4 linked regions of the Homo sapiens genome follow. The protein of the gene in region 1 interacts with the protein of each later gene in a pairwise test. Each region holds a gene or a part of one and is shown in the gene's direction. Other genes may lie near its edges.

Region 1 (3,500 bases):
GTGGGCACAAGATGACACAGTCTATGATATTCAGTTAATCCTCAGTTTAAGAATCTGTTGGGGGCCACTTGTATTTTATTTTCACATATCTCTTGAGCTGAAGGAAGTTACTCAAGTGTTTTTGATTTAGAATACCACCTGCTGTGCCCCAGGCTCAGGAAGCAAATGGATATCTATTCTAGACCATGGGCAGAAGTAGAGGGGATAAGGCGAGGAGCACAGAGGAGGGTCAGGAAAACATTTACTCCAATAAATTTTATATTATGTCTTTGGACATAATGATTTGAAAATAATAATTATATCATTTGGATATGATTTCAATAAATCAAATGTTGGTAAGACATATTGAATAAATCTACAATCTAACTGTACAAATTCAGAAGTAATATCCAAGTAAAGCTTGGTTTTGTTTTTTTCACTGAATCTATTGATTTCTACTGACCATTAGAAATAACCATTGTAAATAACTTTGGTTTATTTTATGTTGAGGGTGGTGAGGGATTAGACCTGAGGAGCTTGGTCTTAGTGTATTGTGAGCAAAGCCATTGTCACTCTCATGGCAATCCTGTCTGCTTTGAGTTTATTTGTTTTTCTGAGTTACTCAACTTCTTAGATGAAGATGGCAAGTGTTAAGGACTTAATATAATGCTGCGGTCATATTAAACTTCTCTTTCACCAAACTGTTCTTTGGACACAATAAGAATAGTTACATTTGTGTAATTATCATTGCATTTAAGAAAACTAAGAGGCACTGATTATTTCAAATTCTTATTTTAAAAAATGTTATGTTTGGTCCTGTTTCAGATCCCGTAATATCTTGTGCCAAAACGAAACAATTGCGAGTTGTAAATGGGATTCCAACACGAACAAACATAGGATGGATGGTTAGTTTGAGATACAGGTAATTATTAATAGATGCAAGTCATGCATATCCAGAATATGTACAAGAGAGTCCTATTCCCAGAAATATGGACACATGTGGTCCTGAAGGTTGTACCCTCCACAGGGCACCTGGGTGAGGCAGTAAAAGAGGAAGCTGATCACATCTGCTTGCCAGACTGTAAGCTCTGGACTATAATTTGTGCCTCCAGAGGTAGTGCCTTTTTAAATCTTCACAAAGGTCCCATATGTGTTGGCAATGTCCCTGATTCTAAGAGACACTTTGGTTCCGATTAAGCAAAATACGGAGGACCTATTGAAACCTTAATATTACCATAGTAGTTATGATACTTGTTATTAAATTTCCAATCTAGGATATTATGGGTTTATTTTCTAATATGTTTATGCATGATCATGTCAAAACATTTATATTTGTTTTTAATTTCTGACTTTTTCCTTGTCAATCAAATGAAAAATGGTAATTTTAAATTCTAGAGCATTTTATCTTTACAAAAAGGCCAATAGTTAAATAGTCTTGATATTATAATAATCAGTGGGGATACAAAATTCTTGACATGTCTATTTCTCAATGCTCTTAAGAATCAATGACATATTCTACATAAAATCACTTTGCAAATCATATTGTTAGAGAAAATTATGCTTAATAATTATGTCATAAGAATTAAATACTGAAAATATAAGTTAACTTAAAATCTGATCTTACAACTTTCATATACTACATATATTATTCTGTATGTTAATTGGAATGCTAAAATATTTATGTCTTTGGCTATCTCTATCAGAACCTTACCATGCAACACACCCCAAGATACATTGAATTTGAACCACATTGTCTCTTGTTTTCTAGATACCTCACGTTTCTTCCTCTAAGCCTTTATGCTGTTGTTCCCACAACACACTGTGGCTTTCTTCCTCCATGTTTTATGCCTGAAAATTCCTTCTCCTTCAAATTTCAACCTAAATATCCCCTCTTTTAGAATACCCTCCTGTTCCCTTACCGCTAGCCTCCTAGAGTAGAGAAAAAGAATGTCTGTTACTATTATTAAATCACAGTGACATTAGAATAGAGACAACTTGAAACAGAAGTCCTTTTATGAATAAACCAATTATTGGAAAGCAAGAGTTTATATAATTTGATATATATGACTTTAGATGACCACAATGTTGTAGGAGATGGCCTAAAGTTCTTTTTTTAGTATACCCTTTTCTCAAGGAATGGCTTATCAGATTTTATAAATATTTATGCCAATAATTGTAGTATAGCTGTCCTAGGTGTGTAGTACTAAAATAGAATTGTGAAACTAACCAGAATATTAAAGCTGAGTGTGCAGTATGAGGATTTAGTAAAGACTTTAGAATTCTGTTGGAGTGTTTAATTTTCTTAATTATAGAAAATCTTTCAAGAGGCTGGGTGTGGTGGCTCACACCTGTAATCCCAGCAGTTTGGGAGGCTGAGGCAGGTGTATCACTTGAGGTCAGGAGTTCAAGAGCAGCCTGGCCAACGTGGTAAAACCCATCTCTACTAAAAATACAAAAATTAGCCGGGCATGGTGGCACATGCCTGTAATCCCAGCTACTGAGCGAGACTCTGTCTCAAAAAAAAAAAAAAAAAAAAAAAAAAAAGAAGGAAGGAAGGAGAAATCTTTCAATAATCCACATTTGAGTTAATTGGTGATTCTTTGCTTATCTTATAACCCCAGAGGATAAAAGAAGACATATATTAATACTTCTAAGTTATTTTTTCCAGTAAGAGAATTCACAAGGATACTGCTTTGGTCATCTCCATTGTTGGAAAAGCAGGTGAAGCTATTTTTCCATCAGATTAGAGTACTGTAAATTTTTAGTTTTTTTCCTTTTTAAATCCAAGTTCTTAGCAACAACAGCTGCTTAGTTATTCTTCCAAAACTCATACTGAAAAGGATAGAAATTAAAAGTCAATATATATTCTTATCCTCCTGTGTGGTAAAGGCCATAAATAACTGTGGTCTCAGTCTGGGAATCTTCTAGTATTACCCTCTGAAGCACTGAACATCTGTACTCTTTGGAAATGTAAATTATGAAAAGTTGTGCTTTTTCCATGTCTCTGCCAAAAAAAATGGATTTACAGATTTTGGATATCATCAAAAAAATGTACTAGTACTCATCATACTCTGCAAATATTTTACAATTTCCTAAATGATTTGCCTTGCAAAATTGTTTTACTTTAGAGATGAAATATTATATTCCTGATCTTATACTGGACAAAGTAATTTATTCAGATTCAGTTACATTTTATGTTAATATATCAAAACTACATAATGGTAGTAGAAGAAGGAAATAGTGCACGAATAAAATTGCTACCACTAGATGGTTTTCAGGGTTCAAACAAGAACTCAACTTTGCATTTTTAATAAGCAAACACTGAATTTAAAATAGATTCACATTTTTAAGAAATTATAATTATCCTATATTTGTAGCACATACGTTCCTCACAAGGATAGATGCACATACACACGAATATGTGTGTTCGGGATGGCTATTGATGTGTAATAACTTTAGACTACACAAAAGTCAAATTGATTTCATAAATTTATAGTCACATTATGAAAAAAAAGCTAACG
Region 2 (3,500 bases), on another chromosome or scaffold:
CTGGAAAGATCTTAGGCTGGGAATTACTTGTCAGACCAAACGTTTGAAATCCTCGTAGCTTTACATCCTGAAGTTTAATACGGTTGGCTTACAATTTTTATGAAGTGCCACAGTGGGTTTTAGTGAGGGTCCCCATTTTAGATAGGCTTAAGTGGCTGTGTCTAGTAAGTAATATTTAAAAATCCCTAGCACTAGGAATTTGGGGAAAATTGCTAGAGAACAAATTATTAGTTTATTTCCTGCCCCCCTACCCCTGGACTTATACTTGAACTTTGCCTTGTGTTTCCTGCTGTCTATCCACAAATGAAACGTGGGTGATTCCCTAAAGCAGCCCTGTTGAAACTGTTGTCTCCTTTTTTCTTCTTTTCTCCAGATTGAGTTGGCCATCCTTCGATTTCCCTATGATTCATGGGGAACTCCATTTCAGCAGCTCAAACAGGTGGTAGAGGAGCCATCGCCACAACTCCCAGCAGACAAGTTCTCTGCAGAGTTTGTTGACTTTACCTCACAGTGGTAAGACAGCCTCACCTCCCAAGTGTCAGTGTGAAAGAAGAAGATGAGTTCTCATGAATTTCTTCCATCGGGGTTGAATCCATCATGCATACATTCATTCCGAAAGCATTTGTGGAGTATGCCCTCTCTGCTGGAGAAGCAAAGATGACCGTATCACACTCCCTGCCCTCACTGAGCCCAAAGTCAAGTAGAGAAGTCTCATAAATGAATAATTATAGTATAATGTGGCAAGTCCAGTGATAGAGATAGGGGCATAGGCGATTTAAGGAACTCAGAGGGAAGACCTCAGGATAGGCTTTTCTGGAGGAGATAAATCTGGAGCTGCGATCACGAGAGGAATTTTCCAGACAAAAGGGAAATAGGAAAGGAAACATATTCCAAACAGAAGGAACATCATTCACAATGTCACGAAAGCAAGAAACTCCTTTATGTGAGCTTTAAGCAATTTGATGTTGATTAAAGCATAAAGAGAAAGCTGATAGGACCCACTAGAGGCCTGGGGATAGGAAGTAGAGGCAAAGAATTACTTTCGGTGAGAAGATAGTGGGTAGTTTGAGAGTGTTTCTTAGGTCCCCAGAAGTCTTGTAGAACCTTGGTTGCTACTGAATACTTGCTAACTGTGGAGAAACTTGCCCACCATAAGAGACAATGCTGAAGTTCTGGGAAGGGAATCCAAAGGAAGTTGGGGTGGAAAGTGGGAGGGAGCCATACTCATGAGGTGAACTATATTTTCATGAAAACTGCCAGGGCAGTCAAGAAAAGCAAGAGGGGAAAGTATTCTCTAGACAATCCAGTAATTTCTATCTGCATAGAGGTCATGATGCCTAGCATGGCTTGATAGTAATGATCATGGCAAGTGATGCTGGAAGCAGGATGCCAGAAGTGAAGCACACCCCTGAGCCAGGTTAGCGTATTTGGCCATCCGGGAGAAGTAGATGAGAATTAGGAGGAAGGGGGCTCGGAGATGGTGGCAGGCCCAGCTGTGACCCTGGGAGGGGAGCCGTTCTGAGTACTCACTGCTGGGGAAGGGCCTGGAGCTCTGAAGGCTGTTTGAGGTACTGAGGAAGCTGAAGGAACATCTTCCCCGTGGCTTCATTCCTCAGCCTCCATGGTTTTTAGAAGTGCTGTGAGGCAGGGCACCCGCGCCTGTAATCCCAGTACTTTGGGAGGCCAAGGCGAGTGGATCACCTGAGGTCAGGAGTTCAAGACCAGCCTGGCCAAAATGGTGAAAACCTGACTCTACTAAAAATACAAAAAATTAACTGGGCATGGTGGTGGACAGCTGTAATCTCGGGAGGCTGAGGCAGGAGAACCGCTTGAACCTGGGAAGTGGAGGCTGCAGTGAGCCGAGATCACGCCATTGCACTCCAGCCTGAGCAACAAGAATAAAACTTCGTCTCAAAAAAAAAAAAAAAAAGCTGTGAATACAGCATTCATCAGGAAACATGGAAGAAACATAAAACAAAGCAACTGTCTGTTGCTTGTGAACCTAAGAGCTCTTCGACTCTTTGTTAGCCCTAGGCCCCTTCTCATTTCTGGTACTTTTCCCTGATGATGTATGAGGCTGGTCTGCAGTTGTTTGTTTTTGTTTTTGGCTGGATGACTAGAGAGGGGCTGGAGCCTCGAGCACTAGTGTAATAGTTGTTGGATGCCTCTTAAAAGATATATCTTCTAGGCTGCTTCCTGTCTGTTTTCCTTGAGGGAGTGTGCTGGATGTGGTAGTACCTCTGCCAGGTTGACCTGGGTTCATGATTTTGCCTTCTGGATTCAAAGACTTGTTTTTTGTGGATGGTTGGTTGGTTGGTTATTTATTTATTTATTGCCTTATCCTCAGATGTTTAAGGTCACATCAAAAAAAGGGATGAGGGGCCGGGCGTGGTGGCTCACGCCTGTAATTCCAGCACTTTGGGAGGCCAAGGTGGGCGGATCACTTGAGGTCAGGAGTTCGAGACCAGCCTGACCAACATGGTGAAAACCCATCTCTGCTAAAAATACAAAAATTAGCCAAGTGTGGTAGCACACACCTGTAGTCCCAGCTACTCGGGAGATTGATGCAGGAGAATTGCTTGAACCTAGAAGGCAGAGGTTGCAGTGAGCTGAGATTGCACCACTGCACTCCAGCCTGGGTGATAAGAGAGAGACGCCATCTCAAAAAAAAAAAAAAAAAAAAAAAAAAAAAGATGAGGCATCTTGGGTAGTACAGAACAGTAGTTCTCAAGAGGGGTGGTAATGGGGAATGATCTTATCTAGCTAAGTCTCTTCAAATTATTCTCCCTATTACCTTTCTCCCACCTATCCCCTTTTCCCAAGATTCTGGGTGCTTTAGGAAATTTTGGTAAGAACGAGGCTGGTGTGAAAAGTTTGAGAAAGCTGAGTCTACCATTGTGAATCACCAGTTTAATCCAATGATTCTCAACTGTGGCTGCTCATTTATAAAACTCTAGTGAGCTTTCAAAATCACTGCCCCCTAGGCCTCATCCTCATAGACTCTGATTTAACTGATCTGGGGAGGGGCCAAGATACTAATATATTTTTAAATGTTCTCAAGTCATTTTTATGTACAGCTGCGGTGATAACCCCAGGTTTAGACATATGATCTATGGACCTGCCATCAACTAGTTTCTGTTTAGAAGGTTTATTTTCTTCAATTTGTTTAAAAAAAATCATCCAATTGCTTGAATTTTCTTTCACCAGTGTATTTTTTCTCTTACTGGAATTTTCTCCGAAGAATCAGAGCATTGAAACTTTTTAGAGATATTTTAAAATGAACATCTTGAGAAATAAATGGTTTTTAATTTTTTTTTTTTTTTTTTTTTTTGGAGACGGAGTTTTGCTCTGCCACCCAGGCTGGAGTGCAGTGGCACGATCTCAGCTCACTGCAAGCTCCGCCTCCTGGGTTCACGCCATTCTCCTGCCTCAGCCTCCTGAGTAGCTGGGACTACAGGTGCCCGCCACCACGCCCGGCTAATTTTTTGTATTTTTAGTAA
Region 3 (2,912 bases), on another chromosome or scaffold:
CTGTGTTACCCCGGGCGTGGGGGGAGGGGCCCGTCACTCGTGAGCACAGCTTCTCCCTTTGTTCTTTAGAAGGGCACGAGGTCGCCCCTCCTGAGCCTCCTGAGAGGAAGTGTGCACGCTTGGACTTTGGGAAGGATTTCCTCTGTCTAGGCAGCGATTTGGGAAAGCAGCCGTGGGGTGGGCATATATATGGGGAGGAGAACACTTGGAAGCCAAAATCCAGTCCTTCCTGGGCCTCTCCTGCTCAGGCCCCAGACCAAACCTCTGCCATCCACAGGGCCACACCCAGCCTGGCCTCCATGGCCCCTGTGCCCTTAGGGGTCCTGCAGGTGTGTCAGGAGCCTCCCAGAGTGCTATGAGCAGATTATGGGAAGTACCCAGCTGGGCTCCAGGCCTAGCTCCACCCCAGTCTCAGCGGGTCCCTGCCCGGGGTTGAGTGCCTTGGCATCTTCGAAGCCGAGTTTCCTCCTCCTCCTCGCAGCTCTGACAGTGCTCTGTGTGCCTCTGAGATAGACCCACGCAGGGTGTCCCCAGGGCAGGTTTCCCAACCTCGAATGAGAAGGTTGGGGGCGGGCACTGCATCAGCCTAGGATGAGGCGGCCTGAGCATTCTCCTGTCCCCCACAGTTCTGACCTGTGGTCCAGAGGGGCCATGCCGTCCCCTGCTCTACCCAGGCCTGGTCCTTGACAGCCCCTGCAGGCGCTGAGGTTGGGACAGCCAGGGTCCACATCCCTCCTGGCTTTGTGATGAGCTCGTGGCGAGGCCATGCGGCTCTTTAAGCAGCCTCTCTAGGGCTGCAGTCAAGGCTGGGGTGTGCTGGGAAAGCAACCCTGAAAGCCCAGCCTGTGCAGGTGGAGGACAGGCCCAAGAGGGGCTGAGGAAGCTGGAGGGAGGAGAGAGCTGGGGGGAGCGAGGAAGCGGCCGCTGGACAGGGAGGGAGAAGAGCTGGGGGCAGGCACATGGCGCCCTCATCTCCCCCATTCTCTGTCCTCGCTATGGCTCCCCGAGTCTCACCATGCAAGCTGCACAGTTTTGGGTAGGAGAGGAAGCCACTTGGTGTAAGTTCCTGGGCAAGAAGCCACTTGGTGAAGAGGAAGAAAAAGAAGGCTTTTCACTTTTCCTTTCACCTCTGACTGTGGCCTGGTAACCCTGGGGTTGTCCCTGCTTTTTTCTGACCTTCCCTGGGAATTCCCAGGAGGCCCTAAGATTGTGGATGTAAATCTTGGTGCTTCAGGACAGCAGAGAAGAGAACTGGCTAAATAGAATCTGGTCTGCCTGTGTGATAAGTGGGTTAGAACCAGAGGCAGGCCACAGGGCAACAGGGCCGGCCCCTCCAGAGTCCAGCCCCCAATGGAACTTCTCACCAGGAACCCAGAGATCCTGTGCACAGCCCAGCACATTCCTCCCCCTCCCCACTTCCCCTGACATGTTTGCCTTCCCTCCAATTGCAGGTGGTGACTTCTTTTTATAGGAGAGCTGTAGACAAAGGAGAAAGCTAAAAGGGATTGACATAGCCTCTGACGAGATGATTCTTTGGTCTCTGGGCACCAACTGAACCGGAAAGCTGGCAACACAGTGCCAGGCCTCGGCTGACTGGCCGTGCGAGTGATGCCGGGCAGAGGAAGGGCCAGGCAGAGTGTGCAGCGAAGACAGGCCCTCGCCCTTAAGCACCTTCCAGGCTAGTGCGAGCCTCAGGAAGAGGTGGCAGAGTCTGAGATGTGCCAGCCAGCACTCCACACGCTTGGTGCTGACTACCAGTATGTCACTGCTCGTCCCTGGGCCTCAATTATCTAGGCCGTGAAATGGAGCTGATAGCCTCCCTCGTTACCTCACAGGGTTACTGGGGAAAGAGATCAGATCCAGGCTGAGGGCAGGCCCTGGAAAGTACAATGAGCGCGGGAGTCCGAGGACTGCCTGTCACAGCCTCCTCCTCTTCCCCGCAGGGCCACCCGTTCATCGTGCAGTTCAATGATGGAAATGCCGCCGTGGTGTCCATGTGGGTGTGCCGGGCGCTGGAGGAGAGGCGGAGCCAGCAGGGGCCCCCGTGAGGCTGCCGCAGGGCACTGAAAGCCCAGGACCAGTAACCAAGGAGAACAACCCACCCGTCGCCCTTCTCCGTATGCTGCCTGCGCCAGAAGAGCTTTGCTGGGCCCTGGCTTCCCTGCCCTCGCCTTCACCTCTGTCAGCAGGTGGCCTTGCCTGGGGAGCCCCATGTGTGGCCCACCCCACCAGGCCATCCCCATACCTTCTGGTTTGAAGGCGCTGACACTGGCAGAGAGGTAAAGGGTGGGGCATTGAGAATGGAGGCTCCCAGGGTCCCTGCCCACTTCTGTTTTCCTAATGTTTTTCTCTATAAAGGGTCAGGCCCGTCAGCATCACTGATGGGAATAAAAGTATTAATGCTTTGTGACAGCCTCTGCCATAAGAGTTGTGTGGTCCAGGGGGTCTGTGACCCCCCCCAGGGCTGGGGGCAGGTGGGATCTCCACTTCAGCAGGGATGTGTGTGACAGTGCCTGCTGCCTGCCCAGGCACCTGCAAGCCTCCTGCTAGCTCCTCGCAGTTGTGCTGAGGCCCACAGCCCAGCTCCACTGTCAGATGAGAAACAGAAGCACGGAGGCATTGGGATGGGTCCCATGGCAAGGAGTAGGCCCGGATCTCAGGCCCCCGCCATGAGCTCCTTACTGGACTGCCAGACACATCCACCTGACCTGCGTGGCTGAGGAGGGAGTGGGCTGTTCTGAGAGGCCCTTCTCCACCCCAGCCCCACCCCTGCTCCTCACTGCCCTTGACCCCACACCTGCCACCTCTCACCTCTCAGGAAATCCCCTCAGCCACATGCCAGGTAAGCCTGGCTACCCCCATTTTGCAGGTGAGGAGCTGAGGCTCCAAGGGGCTCAGGATTCCACTTGAAG
Region 4 (3,500 bases), on another chromosome or scaffold:
GCAAAGGCATCACAATGCTGGAAGAAATCAAAGTCCCATCCATCAAATTGGTGTACACTTTGACGGTCCCCGAGGCCACGGTGAAAGACAGTGGAGATTACGAATGTGCTGCCCGCCAGGCTACCAGGGAGGTCAAAGAAATGAAGAAAGTCACTATTTCTGTCCATGGTACATTCCGCTTTCTAAAATGTCAGTTGTCCATGCTGCTCGGGATCCATATGTGGTAATCATTATTTAATGGAAACTCTTCCCTGTACAGAGAAAGGTTTCATTGAAATCAAACCCACCTTCAGCCAGTTGGAAGCTGTCAACCTGCATGAAGTCAAACATTTTGTTGTAGAGGTGCGGGCCTACCCACCTCCCAGGATATCCTGGCTGAAAAACAATCTGACTCTGATTGAAAATCTCACTGAGATCACCACTGATGTGGAAAAGATTCAGGAAATAAGGTAAAGAAACTCTCTGCCCAAGTATGCCTTTTTTTAGTGTGCATCAGAGGCGGACTGAGGTTTGTGTGTGTCTTACAACCCAGACCCAAAGTCAGTCTAGAAAATGTAACAATCTGAGTTAAGAGATGCTTGAAATCACATCCCTTTAATGATAACATTGCAAAGTGGTATTAGTATGCTGGTAAGTATTTAATGAGAAGATGAGAAGAAAGAACTAAAAGCTCTGGCCCCTGGGGAAAGACAGGTCACTGGATTCAGCTAGGGTGGAAGAAAGGAAGTAAAATTGGACTCACCAGGATTGAATAGATTGAATATATTCCCTGATGTTCATCATCCATATCGCAAGTAGACAGATATGGTGATTACACCCATGAGGCAGTTATCACATCACCTTACGTGAAAGTTAACGTCATAGGCTTAATCTGGAACCCATTTGCCCTAATTGAGGACTCCACAGGAAAGAAGAGTAGAGCCTGGCTAATCAGGAGAGAGATGTGCAGTGAGTTGCTTGGATCCCTACCTTTTAATCAGAATGGTAGATTGCTCTCATCTCTTAATTGGTGGTGGAGTTTTGAATGAGTCACCCCTCAGCCACAGTTTCCTCATCTACAATGTAGGATAAACAATACCTTATGTCCTTCAAGGCAAGGAATTGGATCAGATGATATCATGAGGCCTCTTAAGGTTTTAAGCTGTGATTAGAACCCAAGAGTCAGAAGATACATCTCACAGCACCCAGCTAACCAGCCCTATACTTTTGTCAGAAATCATCTCAGAAAGACAAAGTCAGTCCTGTATTTCAAGCCTTCAGGAGGAAGAACAGAGCCTTTCTCATCAGTTCCATTCACCTCAGGATTTGCTTTCTTCTTTGTGAACTAAATTCCACGTGTAATTGAGAAGCAATGTCTGAGAAAATGGAATTTTACAGCCTCTATAGAATAGTAAAGGAAAAATGAAGTGGGATACTGAATCTGGAAGGCTTTCTGTTGACACAAAATGAAGGTGTACAACAAGGAGGGCAGCTTTCCACGAGGAACTTCCATGAGGCTGTGCAGCCAGAGAGGAATAGGGTAACAACCCTGGTACAGCTAACACCTCCAACACGTGTGTGAGCACTGTCTGCAAGCCATAATCCATAGCAGTGGCAGGACAGGCTCGCCAACTGAGTGGTTCTGGAAAGCTGCCTTTTCCTTTTAGTGATTCAAGGATGCTTCAACGTGGATTTTTTAGTTCCTGTTATGAGCCAGTGAATACAAAGATGAACATGGTAGATGGGGGATCTGGCTTCCTGGAGCTTAAAACTCCAGGATGGGGGATCTGGCTTTCCTGGAGCAAGAAAACCAGTGGTTTTCTTGGCCGAAGAAGTGAAGAGAACAAACAGCAGAGGATAATTTGGTAATCAGCATCCTAGTGTGCCCCAGGGTACTCTCTTAAGGAAATCCAGTCCTGGAGCACACCCAGTATGGTCCAGCCTGCTGTCTTCGTAGGTCTGAGTGCCCCAGTATTTGCAAAGTGTTTTGGAGCCTATGAAATGCTTTCACACATACAATCTCCTTTAATTAACTCTCACAATGACTCTGTGCTATGTGTACAATTATCACGTTTTACACACAAGGAAACTGAGGCATGGAGCATTGTAATAATACCCGAGATCTTCTCACTCCATGACCAATGCTTTTCTTCTCCATTCCAGTTGCTTTTTCAACTGTGATGATTTATAAAGGACAATCAAATGGGCACATACTATATTTATGCACATACATACACACACACACACACACACACACACACACAACCAGATGTCATTTATAATCCATGTAAAATATTTTTGGGGAAGTTTCTCTTTAATAAAGTTTGAAGAGACATATATTTTTTTTTTTTGAAGAGGCATATTTTTTCTAACTTTTTTTTTTTTTTTTGAGATGGAGTCTTGCTCTGTCACCCAGGCTGGAGTGCAGCGGTACGATCACGGCTCACTGCAACCTCCGCCTCCTGGGTTCAAGCGATTCTTCAGCTTCAGCCTCCTGAGTAGCTGGGATTACAGGCATGTGCCACCATGCCTGGCTAATTTTTTTTTTTTTGTATTTTTAGTAGAGATGGGGGTTTCACCATGTTTGTGAGGCTGGTCTCGAACTCCTGACCTCAAGTGATTCACCTACCTTGGCCTCCCAAAGTGCTGGGATTACAGGTGTGAGTCATCACACCCAGCCTATAACTTTTTTTTAATAGGTGATAGAATCCCGTGCTTGAAAAATAATCAAACAAAAAGAGAATGCATTGTAAGAAGCCTCACTGTACTCCTGTCCCCAGCTGCCCAGTTCTCCCCTCCTCCCCACAGGGAAACATCTTCATTAGTTTCATTAGGTTCTTATGAAACCTTCCAGAGTTTCTTTAAGCAAAATACAAGCAAGTAGGACTGTCATATCCTGCAGACCGCTACATACAAATACATAGAAAGTGTCCTCATTCTATCCTCCAGTGATATTCCATTTTTTGGCTGAACCACCTAAATGATGGATATTTAGGGGAAGCAAGTATTTTTTAAAAAAGGTAAAAATCAAAGGTTTTTATTTTTTATTTTTTTAAAGAAAAGTTGGTAGGCTGTGTTTATTCATTCAGAAGTCAGGCCGTGGCTGAACTGATAGCTCTTGGAGATGGCCATTGCTCATCTCTGAATGTCTGGTTTTCTCTTGTAAGAATTGTGTGTATGATCCAGACCTTCAGTGTGTGCACTATATATTGAGAATTCCAGAAGAGATGATATGGACAAGAAAAAAAGATGACTTTACTTTTTACAGTAAAAATAAAACTTAAATTGAAGAGTACAATTGTTTAAACAATTGGAACTTACTTAGCTACTGCTTGTTGAAACAAAATCCTTTTTTTAAAAGGTATCGAAGCAAATTAAAGCTGATCCGTGCTAAGGAAGAAGACAGTGGCCATTATACTATTGTAGCTCAAAATGAAGATGCTGTGAAGAGCTATACTTTTGAACTGTTAACTCAAGGTATGTAAAGGGAGTATAAAGATAATGCTAGCTCTGTAGATGAG

What was found. Proteins that work in one complex are often made in the same cells at the same time.
Region 2: the proteins of HGF (region 1) and MAP2K6 come close enough for resonance energy transfer, tested with the Homo sapiens proteins (one large-scale study listed by BioGRID).
Region 3: the proteins of HGF (region 1) and MAP2K5 come close enough for resonance energy transfer, tested with the Homo sapiens proteins (one large-scale study listed by BioGRID).
Region 4: the proteins of HGF (region 1) and PDGFRA come close enough for resonance energy transfer, tested with the Homo sapiens proteins (one large-scale study listed by BioGRID).

Annotation. Positions count from the first base shown.
Region 1 is NC_000007.14:81,707,548-81,711,047, reverse strand, and holds part of HGF (hepatocyte growth factor isoform 1 preproprotein), read left to right. Parts: intron 1-804; coding exon 805-901; intron 902-3,500. UniProt on the Homo sapiens protein: Potent mitogen for mature parenchymal hepatocyte cells, seems to be a hepatotrophic factor, and acts as a growth factor for a broad spectrum of tissues and cell types.
Region 2 is NC_000017.11:69,526,197-69,529,696, forward strand, and holds part of MAP2K6 (dual specificity mitogen-activated protein kinase kinase 6), read left to right. Parts: intron 1-373; coding exon 374-513; intron 514-3,500. UniProt on the Homo sapiens protein: Dual specificity protein kinase which acts as an essential component of the MAP kinase signal transduction pathway.
Region 3 is NC_000015.10:67,804,703-67,807,614, forward strand, and holds the end of MAP2K5 (dual specificity mitogen-activated protein kinase kinase 5), read left to right. Parts: intron 1-1,943; coding exon 1,944-2,048; 3' UTR 2,049-2,412; downstream 2,413-2,912. UniProt on the Homo sapiens protein: Acts as a scaffold for the formation of a ternary MAP3K2/MAP3K3-MAP3K5-MAPK7 signaling complex.
Region 4 is NC_000004.12:54,267,293-54,270,792, forward strand, and holds part of PDGFRA (platelet-derived growth factor receptor alpha isoform 1 precursor), read left to right. Parts: coding exon 1-168; intron 169-259; coding exon 260-449; intron 450-3,340; coding exon 3,341-3,456; intron 3,457-3,500. UniProt on the Homo sapiens protein: Tyrosine-protein kinase that acts as a cell-surface receptor for PDGFA, PDGFB and PDGFC and plays an essential role in the regulation of embryonic development, cell proliferation, survival and chemotaxis.